Linked DNA regions of Homo sapiens. The protein of the gene in region 2 interacts with the protein of the main gene of each other region in a biochemical or structural test. Each region holds a gene or a part of one and is shown on either strand. Other genes may lie near its edges.

Evidence for each region.
Region 1: the proteins of UBR5 (region 2) and RXRA form a complex in vitro, tested with the Homo sapiens proteins (one study listed by BioGRID).

What each region holds. Positions count from the first base shown.
Region 1 is NC_000009.12:134,322,362-134,329,454, forward strand, and holds the start of RXRA (retinoic acid receptor RXR-alpha), read left to right. Parts: upstream 1-4,093; 5' UTR 4,094-4,270; coding exon 4,271-4,298; intron 4,299-7,093. UniProt on the Homo sapiens protein: Receptor for retinoic acid that acts as a transcription factor.
Region 2 is NC_000008.11:102,251,748-102,255,704, reverse strand, and holds the end of UBR5 (E3 ubiquitin-protein ligase UBR5), read left to right. Parts: intron 1-1,190; coding exon 1,191-1,403; 3' UTR 1,404-3,432; downstream 3,433-3,957. UniProt on the Homo sapiens protein: E3 ubiquitin-protein ligase involved in different protein quality control pathways in the cytoplasm and nucleus. Mainly acts as a ubiquitin chain elongator that extends pre-ubiquitinated substrates.

The sequences.
Region 1 (7,093 bases), on a different chromosome or scaffold from region 2:
CCGGACTCTCAGAACTGTTCCTGCCCTTCTTTGAGCATCTGTGACCCCTTGCGGCTGGCGCTGGGATTCGGTGGGGCTCTTTGGTGGCCCCTGGAGGGAACCCACTGTCTCTTGCCTGGAGCTGCACTGAAATCCTGGCTCTTCATTACAAACCAGCTCCTGTCCCCTTAAGCCTCACTCACCTGAACTCTTTGGCTCACGCCACCATTCAGCTCCCCAGAGTTCTGGAAGTAAGACCCCAGCTGATGACGGAGGCAGCGGCTGGCCTTCGGAGGACCTCACCTTTCTCTTCCCCTGCACTGCTTTGGGTTTGGGGTGTGCAGGGCCAGCCAGCTGACTGCTACCAGGGCAGACGCTGTCAGTGGTGACTGCCCTGCAGGCCTGCAAACATTTTGCCAGAGGGCCAGACCCAGGAGCAGAGGGGTCCTCTTCTCTTCCTCCTCCTCCCCTCCTGTCCTCTCCTCTCCCCTCCCTCCTATCCTTTCTCTTCCTCTCCACTCAGCAGAACAGACTGGAGCCCAGGTGTGGACAAGTGGCTTGAGTGTTTCCCTCTAGACTGATGGAGAGACAAGCTATGACTGAGAAAGGGGGTTCGGGCTGGGACCCCTGGGCCTAGTCCCAGTTCCATGTGGACCTGCCGGGTGGCCCCTTGCCTCTCTGAGCTTTCGGCTCTACTTCCCAGCTCGAGTCATCATCGGTCACCACAGACAAAAGGTGTTGTCCCCAAAGGAGCCACAACGGATGTGAGAGAGAGTCCCCTTAGGCTGAGGTGCTTGGGGACAGATCGGGCCACCTTGCCCAGCAGTACCCAAGCCCTTGGCCTCCCTTGTTGGAGGCTGAGCTCCCCAAACCCCTGTGAGGTCCTGCTAGTGACCAGCTCAGGACCACAGGGAACCTCTGGAAGCAGCTTAGAGCCCCGTTGGTGTCCTGGGAACTTCTGGGAGCAGTCCACCCAGACGCCAGCTTCCTCATGCTCAGCCAGCACAGAGACCAGCCTTTAAAAATATTATTCAACAAGCAATTCCCGGGACTGTTTACAAGACTGAGCCGAGACAGGCATATGAAATAGGCCAAAGTACCTTAAAAAGCGTCCCTCAGGGAAATTAAAAAAAAAAAGACCCAAACAAAAAAACAAAAAAACAAAACCTTCTTAGATCGCAGGTTGTGAATAAATGGATACTACTATAAAAATAGTTTTGGCTGTAGCAGCACATGGTGGGAAGGCTGGGGTGTTTTTTTCCATGGCTGGCTCAGACCTGGCCATTTCATATGGGGCAGCCACTATCCCGGGAGGTTTCGTGTAGAATCATTTGCACCAAAAAGCTCCAAACTGAGGGGGAGGATAAAAAGTAGTGGCCACAGAAATAACAAGCGGCATCGTCATTTTCCATCAAGGACCTGGTGTGTTTTCGGCGGCCGAGCACCCAGGCCCCTGCCCCATGGAAGAGAAGGGCGGGGCTGAGAGCCATTCACCGTCTGTGGGCACAGAGGCTGGATGTGAGCCCAGATCTGCAGGACTCCGGACTCCGTGCGCTCTCCACGTGGTCTCTAGAGCAGGGGATGACGCCTTCCGGTGTTTCTTAGGAACAGAGGGCCCTTCTGGAACCTTCAGCCTTCCCAGGAGGAACCCACATGGAAATCTGTCTGCATGTGCCTCCCCGACTCCAGGCACCAACAGCTCCTGAGTCTTGAGTTTTCAGGGACAAGGAGTGAGATGGGGGTGGGGTGGAGAGTCCAGCATGCCACACCGCCCACTATTGGGAGGTGACCTCAGACACTTCAGCCCAGCCTTCCCACCATTGCCTGGCGTGTCCTGACCTGCCGTCCGCGGCCTGCTGCTCCTTCTCTCTGCAGGCCGCTGCTCAGCCGGCCCTGCTGCCTGGGCGGCCACTGCCTGATGGAACCTCCCTGCTCCAAAACCTGACTCAAGAACCAGTGATCCCAAAAGCTGCCTGAGCCCTTTGGCTGGATAGAGCCTTGCTCTCCCTGCACTGAGCATAGGCGAACGGCCTGCCTAATTCAGCGTCATTTCATCATCATCATCATCACAATAACTGTCACACCGAGCTCGTCCTCCCGAGCGCAGACTCTCCATATTATCTCACTTAGTCATCTCAGTGACTCAGTGAGGAGGGAGTGGTTGTTCCCACTTTACAGATGAGAAAACTGAGATACAAGGAGGGAAGTGACCCAGCTAGGCCACACGGTTGGTAGGAGGTGGACCTGCAATCTGGCCCAGGCCTTGTCTATCTGGGACTCCCCCCCAACCCCCCAACCTGAGTACAGTCAGGAGGGGCCCAAGCAGTCACAGAGACAGGCCTGGAACGCGGCGGGCACATGGCACTTTTGCAGTGTATGTTGGTGCTTACGGGGGCTCTTTCTCAGTCCTATCCTTTGTTTGCCGCCCCCCTCCCTGGCAGGAGGAACTCAGTTTTAGAAGGGCAGTGGGTTGGGCCGGCATGCCATGTGCAGTGGGGAAGTGGGTCTGTTGTGGCTGTAACCACAGTGGGTGAGGACCAGGTGTCAACAGTGGCCCTCATCCCGGAGGGAGTGGGGCAGGCTGCCTGTTGGACAGGGTGTGTGAATAGGGGGACGGGGTGGCCTTTGGTAGGGGCCCAGGGGTCAGTGAAGAGGGGGAGGGGGAGAGGGCTGCCTTGGGCTCTGGCTGTGCTGGGGGTGGGCTGCCCAACCAGGGCACTTCTGTCCCAAGTGGAACCAAGACCTCCCACCGGAACAGGCCACCGGAGCCCTCGTGGAACCCAGCTCCGGGTGGCCCGACTTGAGGGGCACCCAGGCAGCAGGACACCTCTCTGGTCTCGGGCTGTTATCTTTGGGCCGTGTCATGGCTGTCCACACGCGGTCATCACCTCCTCACCTCCCTCCCCATTAGCGTCCCCTGACCCGGGCCACCACGCGCAGCCTGCGTGAATGGTCAGTCCCTGTGCCTCGCAGCCCGGGCCCTTAGGTCTAGGTGGTCAGCAAGCTCGCGGTGGGGGTGCGGAGGGAGGGCGCGGCGGGGCGCCTCGGCGCCTGCTCAGGAAGGCTGGGCTTGGCGGCGCGCAGGTAGCTCACACCCAAATCCGAATTCCAGCCGCCCGAGACGGCGGGCGGCGGGCGGCGCGCGGCGGAGGCGGCCCGAGCTGTCCCGGGGCAGGAGTGCTTCCTTTCGTTTTCAAACAAATCGTGAATTTAAAAGTCAGGCAGAGAACTACCCAGGGTATAAAAATAGCCACCGGCCACAAAGTCTGTGTCCAACTCCGGGCAGCGCCTGCCCAGCCTGGTGCCTTTGAAGAGGGGTCCCAGGAGTGCGGGTCGATGAGGAGGCGAAGCGCGCACCCCTCCTCGTTCCCGGTGGGCTCGTGGGTCTCTCCGTGGGGGTAGGGCGTGAAAGTGTGGGGTGGACCGGGGGTAGCGTCCGGAAGACGAAACCTTCCCCGGACGAGGAGCTTGTCCTCTGCCGTTGGGGCACATCGCCACTCCCGGGCCTCAGTTTCCCCACGTGTCCGCCGCGGCGGGGTGCGAGGTATGGGTGCCGCGGCCATCCCGCCCGGCTCTGCGCTTGCCTGGCCCGGGCCGGGGTCCCCTCGCGGCCACCGCCCGGCCGCTTTGTGTGGCCGCGCAGACAATGGCCCGGCCGCTGGGCTCCCGGCCCGGCTCTCCGCCTCCTCCGGGCCCTTGCGCGCAAGTGTGTGTGTGCGCGAGTGTGTGGCGGGCCCGGGGAGGGAGTTCTGCTCCCGCCCCCGCCCCCGCCCCGCTCCCTCTGCGCCCCGCCCCCTCCCACGCCGCCTCCTCGCGGCTCCCGGGAACCCCTGGCGGAGGCGAACTCGCAAGTTTGCACGGCGCTCTCAACTCGGCGGCCGGGCGGGCGGCGATCGCGGGGCGGCGGCGGCGGAGGGGGGCGCGCTCCGGGCGGGGCTGGGCGGGCGGGGCGCGGGCCGAGCGGTGGCGGCGGCGCTGCGCCGAGTCAGCGCCCGTCGCGGGCCCCCCGCCACCCCCCCGCCGGCGCCGCAGCGCCGCGGTCGGAGCGGGGCGCGGGCGCGCGGCGGCGGGGGCGCGGGCCGGGCGCGCGCGGCGGCGGCGCGCAGACACAAGTAGTTTACATTGTTGGGCGACTTTTGCAACAACTCGCCGCGCCGCGGCCTCCGCGCGCCGCCGCCGCCACCGCAGCCGCCGGCTCCCCGCCGCCCGGGCCCGGGCCGGCCGCGCCGGGGGCCGCCGCGCCCGCCGCCCGCTGCCTGCGCCGCCGGCCGGGCATGAGTTAGTCGCAGACATGGACACCAAACATTTCCTGCCGCTCGGTGAGTGCTCGCCGGGCCGGGCGGGGACGGGGCCGGGGGCCGGGGGCCGGCGGGCGGGAGGGGGCCGGGGGCGCGTTGGCGGCGCGCGCGGGGGGTCGCCGGCCCGGGCCCCGCTCGGACCCCTCGCCGACCTTCGCGTGAGTTCGGGCGCCGGGCCCGGGGAGGGTCGACCCGGGGCAACTTTTCGCGGGGCCGGGGCGGGGCTGGGCAGCGGGCGGGCGGCGGGGCCGGGGGGCGGGTGGCAGGTTCGCCCGGGACGAGGAGGGGTCTCCCGCTCACCGGCGGCCGCCTGCGCCCCGGCGCCCAGCTGCAGCCGCGCCGCACAGGAACCCGGCCGGAGCGGGAGGAGCAACTTCTGCGCTCCGCGGCTCCGGCCTCCCTGGCCTGGGGACCGGGACGGCGCGCTGGGCCCCGAGCGGCCTCTGCGCCGCCCGCCCGTCGGGCTGCGGCTTCTAGCAGGCCGCTGGCCCTTGGGTGTGTGTCCGCCCAGGAAACAGACTGGGACCCTGTTATCCCCAAAGCAGCCCACGCCCGGGTGGGCAGGGTCCCCCGGGGCTGTATGAACAGAACGTCAGACCTGGGAAGGCCCCATTCCAGAAATGGGGCCCCTCACTCTGGCACCCCCGGGTGTTCTCCCAGGCTGGCTCTCCATTTGTGAGCAGGACAGCGCAGAGGCGCGTAGGGTCAGTTTCCCTCCTCCTCCTGCCATCCCGCCCGGTAGCTTCCTATCCCAGACTGCCCGCCAACTCCAGGCCCAGACCTACCGAGAAGGGGGAGAGGGCATGGCTGGGGCCCCCACCCATTGCCCTCCCAAGGGTTTGGAAGCTAGTGAGAAGGGGGAGACTTTATAAATTAGCTCCGGGAAGGATATTAATTTGGTGGTGGGACGGCAGCCAGGCTGTCAGGCCGGGTGAAGGATTTGTGCTGAATGGAAATCGAAACAGCTGATTATGAATGAAGCCCCCGCCATCCGTAGCCCCTCCTGCCCACCCTCCCTGCAGCCTGGGGTGCAGCTTGGCCACCCCAGGAGGTGCTCAGAAGCCAATGTAGCTGCAGGGATGTTTAGTGAGATGGGGCATCAAGGGGAGCCAGCATGGACCTAGCCCCTCCTGGATGTGAGGGTGAGAGTCTGAGTACCTCTGCTACTCACAGGCAGGTGTGCTGCCCCGTGACCGGGGCAGGCGGTGGGTTCCAGGTTTGTCAGACCTAACGCTTACTCCCTGCCTCTGTCATGATGGAGTGGTGGGCTCGAGGCCTTGAATGAGCTCCAGGGCTCAGCCTCCAGGGGTGGGCGCTCATGCCCATTTTGCAGATGAGAAAACTGGCTGGGAGAGGCTGAGCCCCCAGGATACAAGGTGGTGGATTTGGGATTAGCACCCCCAGCTCGTGGTACTGCTGAGTGTGAGGCAGGAGGGAATGCTGCGCTGTCTGTGACCGAGTGCAGTGTGGAGTGGGCTGGGGCTGCCTTTCCCTGTTAAAGCTTTGCACTCACACATGTGCACACACACATCCACACACACAGAGCTAGGCTCTCCCAGACGATTCCTCTGGAACAAGAATGCTCAGCTCAGTGTCTGGCCCCTGGACGTGGCAGGGGCCTGGCTGGTTGCACTTCAGCTGAGTACTGAGAACCGAACAGGTCCCTGTTTCTAATGCTCCGGGTGGGACAGGGATAGTCCACGGAGTTGGTGGATGTAGGGCGAGGGAGCAAGGGGTGCCCAGTCGCCATGGTGGCTTGCTGGAGTCCCTGTGAGGAGGAGAGGTCGTGCCTCCGAGCCACTGCCCCAGGGATCTCCCTGGGCACTCCCCTGCCACAAGGAAGCTAGGAGTCTTCTGTTCTCGAGCAGCAGCTCTCCCGACCGGCCCATGGCCTCCCAGGCAGCCCACGCCCCAGGGCTGAGCAGAGAGCCCTGGGCTCTGATTACATTTTATTTTTTTTCTAAGCTTGTGACCAGCTCTGAAGTCCAGAGCAGTCGAAGGTCCATTTAAGCGGCTACTTTTCTAAGCCCTTTTGTCAACACAGCCTAATCCCTCCTCGGGGTGAGTGGTGGTGGAGGGCCTGGCTTGTCTTGGCCCGGCTGGCCGACCGGTCAGACCTGGAGCTGCTGGGGAGACTCGGCCACCCCTTACAGCTGCCCAGCCGCTTTTGGGGTCTGGGGTAGAGAGGGCTTCCTCCTCCCAGCATTCACTACCGCTGGGCTTGGTGGGCAGGGAGAGGATCCCAGTCGGTGTCCACCGAGCCGCTCAGTGAGGGCAGGGATGAGTGCAGCGTCCAGATCTGGAAGGAAAGCAAGGCCGAGGGACTCGCCAGAGGCAGCCCCAGCTTCCTGGCCCTGCTGCCCGGGGCTGGCCGCGCTCCCACGCCTGCCGGGGAGAAGGCCCCCGCTGGCCTTATCCTGAATGGTGGGACTCAGGCGGAGTCCACAGAGTCCAAAGGTCTCAGACCACACCAGACCCCATGCGCCTGTGGAGAGACCCGGTGGCAAAGCTGTAGGCCCGCTGACCACTCTTGGAGTTGGGGCACTTGGGGGCCTGGGTGAGCTTGCAGCCTGTGTGAGGGGCTTCTGGTAACATCAGAGCCCTTGGGACCCAAAATAGAGCACATTCCGGGGCCTCCCGAAATAACAGGGTCATGTGACTCTCAGGAGGCTGGGCTTGGAGTCCCGCTCGGGCCTGACGAGGGCGTCTTTTAGCGCGGGCGCTGCCCGACGGCAGGGTGTTTGTTTTGGTAAACTCTGGAGGGGCCCTGTTTGTTGACTGGGGAGGTGTCAGGGAGAGAAAAATGGCCCAGTCCG
Region 2 (3,957 bases):
GCAACTTATAGGGTTTCCAGAGTTATTGGGTAAACTACAGTTTATTTCCCTCTTGGAGTGTTATAATTCACTAGTAAAAGTATTTCTCTTCCAACTTCTTAGAGATCCAGCAGTGAGGTCATCTACCCTGGTTAACCACATTCATCCTTGGAGAAACACTTTATATTAAGCTTGTTTCTTATCTATGAAATGAGTGGTTTAGATCAACTTCATCTCTAGAGTACCTGTTTTCTATTTCTTTTCAGATTTTATAGATCCTGATACTTAACTTTTTTTTTTTTTTTCTGTCCCTTTATATAGAATTCTAGATGAGCTTTCCCATACAACTGTGCTTCAGGAAATCTTAAGTTTGTTTAGGTTTCCTAGTCATTCTAGGAAATTGGATATACTTCATTGTTGTGCATTATAAAATGATTAGATTAAAAAAAAAGCTTTTCCTTAAGAGAGACAGACACTGAAGAATGATGCGTATGTATGAAGGGATGGATTGATGAGGAATGTTACATGTTCAGCAAACTATTTCAGGGAGGCATATCCTTGGTTAAGTTAAAAAGTGTAAGTTCACATTTACTGAGCATCATTTACACTGTGTTGCACAAAGTTTTATTACAGAGGTATGATAAAACTTAGTGTTAATATGGCTTATTGCATGAATTTTGATGCATAGATAGATGTTCCCCAATAATTACTATTATAAAATGATTCTGTATCACAATGTAGCAGTAAATACTTTTTTTGCTTTATTATTTTATTATTTGCATTATTTTGCTCCTTAATGCAAAATAACTTTTTAAGATAACCTGTGTGAGTTTTGAACCTAAGACCGTATCTTTTGTTTGGCAGCCTTTTTTCCACTAATAGACACTTTATGGAATTAGCTGCAAGAAAGGCTCTTAGAAACCATTTAGTCCAACAGCCTCATGTTACAGATGAAAATACTGAGGCTCTGTGACAGAAAGTCACCTTTTTTTCCTCTACTAACTCTAGACTTACTCCTTTGGGGAAAAAAAACAAAAACAAAAACCTGTCTTGAGGTATGAATGATCCCTTTCCTTTTTAGTACAAGAAAATATATTTAAAATCCAGTTCAAAATAATATCTCCTTTTAGGTTATTAACATAACAATAGGGCTTTGTGTATATACTGCCAGAGTTAAGAGTTAAATATTAACCTGTTAAATTCCTGTTCAGGTTTACTTTTGGACATCAAGCCCATCACTGCCAGCCAGTGAAGAAGGATTCCAGCCTATGCCCTCAATCACAATAAGACCACCAGATGACCAACATCTTCCTACTGCAAATACTTGCATTTCTCGACTTTACGTCCCACTCTATTCCTCTAAACAGATTCTCAAACAGAAATTGTTACTCGCCATTAAGACCAAGAATTTTGGTTTTGTGTAGAGTATAAAAAGTGTGTATTGCTGTGTAATATTACTAGCAAATTTTGTAGATTTTTTTCCATTTGTCTATAAAAGTTTATGGAAGTTAATGCTGTCATACCCCCCTGGTGGTACCTTAAAGAGATAAAATGCAGACATTCCTTGCTGAGTTTATAGCTTAAAGGCCTAAGGAGCACTAGCAACATTTGGCTATATTGGTTTGCTAGTCACCAACTTCTGGGTCTAACCCCAGCCAAAGATGACAGCAGAACAACATAATTTACACTGTGATTTATCTTTTTGCTGAGGGGGAAAAAATGTAAATGTTCTGAAAATTCACTGCTGCCTTTGTGGAAACTGTTTCAGCAAAGGTTCTTGTATAGAGGGAATAGGGAATTTCAAAATAAAAAATTAAGTATGTTCTGTGTTTTCATTTTAACTTTTTTTATGGTGTTTAATTTGTGGTTGGCTGCAACTGTGTATCATGTATATGGAACTTGTAAAAAAGTTCTCGACATTCAGATCTTAAGAGATGAAATCACTTTTACCTATAAAAACCACTTTTATTGCGGTTTGACTGCATTGAGCTCTAGGATATTAAATGATATCACTAATATTTTGCATGTAATTTGCTCATTTGAGTGAGGGCACTTTTTTTGTACATATGATGGGGCCAATGCACAATACTTTTATCACAATCAACTTTTTCTTTGTATCCCTATTTCAATGAGCAGTCAGTCTCAAGAGGTTACTGCACTTCAGTTCTAACTAGACATTTGTACTAAGGTATTTCAGTTATGTAAACTCAGCCTGGGCACTTTCTGATAACTGTAAAATGTTTTATAAGATCATGATTATTGAAGATACATTTTGGAAAATTTTAAATGTTCGTGAGCAGCTTAACTACTTTTGTATCTAGCCTTTTTTAAGTATCTTGTTACATTTACTTTTTTAAATAAAGAAATTACAGAAGAAATGTCAAGTAATATTGAAGAAACAATAGTTTTTATTTATGTAGTTGTACATTTTTAAACTAAGGGCAATACACTGACATGGTTATGTGCATAAAAATTTTGACTTAAAGAACTGGAAGTTTATATACACCTGGACTATAAGAAACAGAAGAAAATCAGTCCACATTTTACAGTTAGCAGAGAATCCTAAATGGCACTGGCCTGGCCACCTTTTCATTTTACAAATGGGGGAAGTGAAGTGTGACCCCTTACTTGGCATAGGAAGTTAACTTACACCTAATAACTGACAGGTTTTTGTTTTGATGACCTATTAATTATGTAGCCTAGGATTAATATCCCAAAATTACTCTGGTTTAAGTAGCTTTATTCAGTGGCATAATAACACTGTTTTCTTCCTTAAGTCTTCAATGAAGTGACTTAAAACAGTCACTTTACATATTAAAAATGAGGAGAGCAATTCTCTGGAATCTCTCCTTTCAGTTCCTTTGTAGGATTTCTGGCCTTGAGGATAGTCTTCATGTTCAAAGGCACTATGCTTTTATTATATAACTTCCTTCAGAAGACTGAACCACATGATATTCTCAGCCCTGTTAACACTAAAAATATTTAAAACTGAATGATAGTAGTGACTCATTGTATTACTTAAAACTTATATAACACGCTGTATTAGATGTGTGTAAATTAGCCAAAGGTTATTTTACAAAGTGAGACATTGGTTTTTATGTCTAAATGCTATTTCTGAATAAATGAAATAGTAATTAGATCAAGAGCTGATTAGCATCAATGTGTTTGAAAGATATAAAATTTATACATCACCTTAACCTCTGTATGCACATGATGGGATTGATAAAATATTAAATGAGAACAAACTAGATATGATTAGGACATTTGAAACCCTAATTGTGAATTTATTTTTAATAGTTACTGAAATGAAAATATTTAAAATAATGCACAATGTCTTAAGTCTTCCTAAATCAAGATTTTGGTTAAAAAATACTTCTAATAATAGTAAAAGATTTTTTTTTTAAGTAAATCATAAAACGGTTCTAAATGTAAAATAAAGACATGTAAAATAAAGTTCTCTTTTGGTCTTGTTTAGTGTTTAAATCTAACAATTGAAAACAAATTTAGGAAGAGAAGACCAAGAATGAACTTTACTGAGTGTTTTCAGAGTTTGCTACTACTATTTTTTTCCCTAAATCATCTGGATACCAAGACTATCCAGTAAAATGGATAACTGGGGCAGACTTGAGAGGGTATTTTAAAGGAATGATTTCACTATTTAGTAGCTGCCCCCAAACAACATCCCTCCCATAAAGATACTATTTTTACATTTTAAAGGTAGTCAGCAATTCCTATGTTTAAACTCAAGTTGAGATAATCCCTTGAGGCAGTAGTTTCCATGCTTCTGTATGTTGTAAGATTCATTTGTAAAGTTTGTTAATGCAGATTCTTAAGCATTCCTCATCCTCTTGCCTCCTTTCTGATTCAGTAAGTCTTTGGTGGAGGCCAGGAATCTTCATGCAGATCATCCCAGGTGATTCTGAAACACTGCCCAAAGAATATTTCCTTTTTATTTACAAATATAAATGTCCCGCTGAA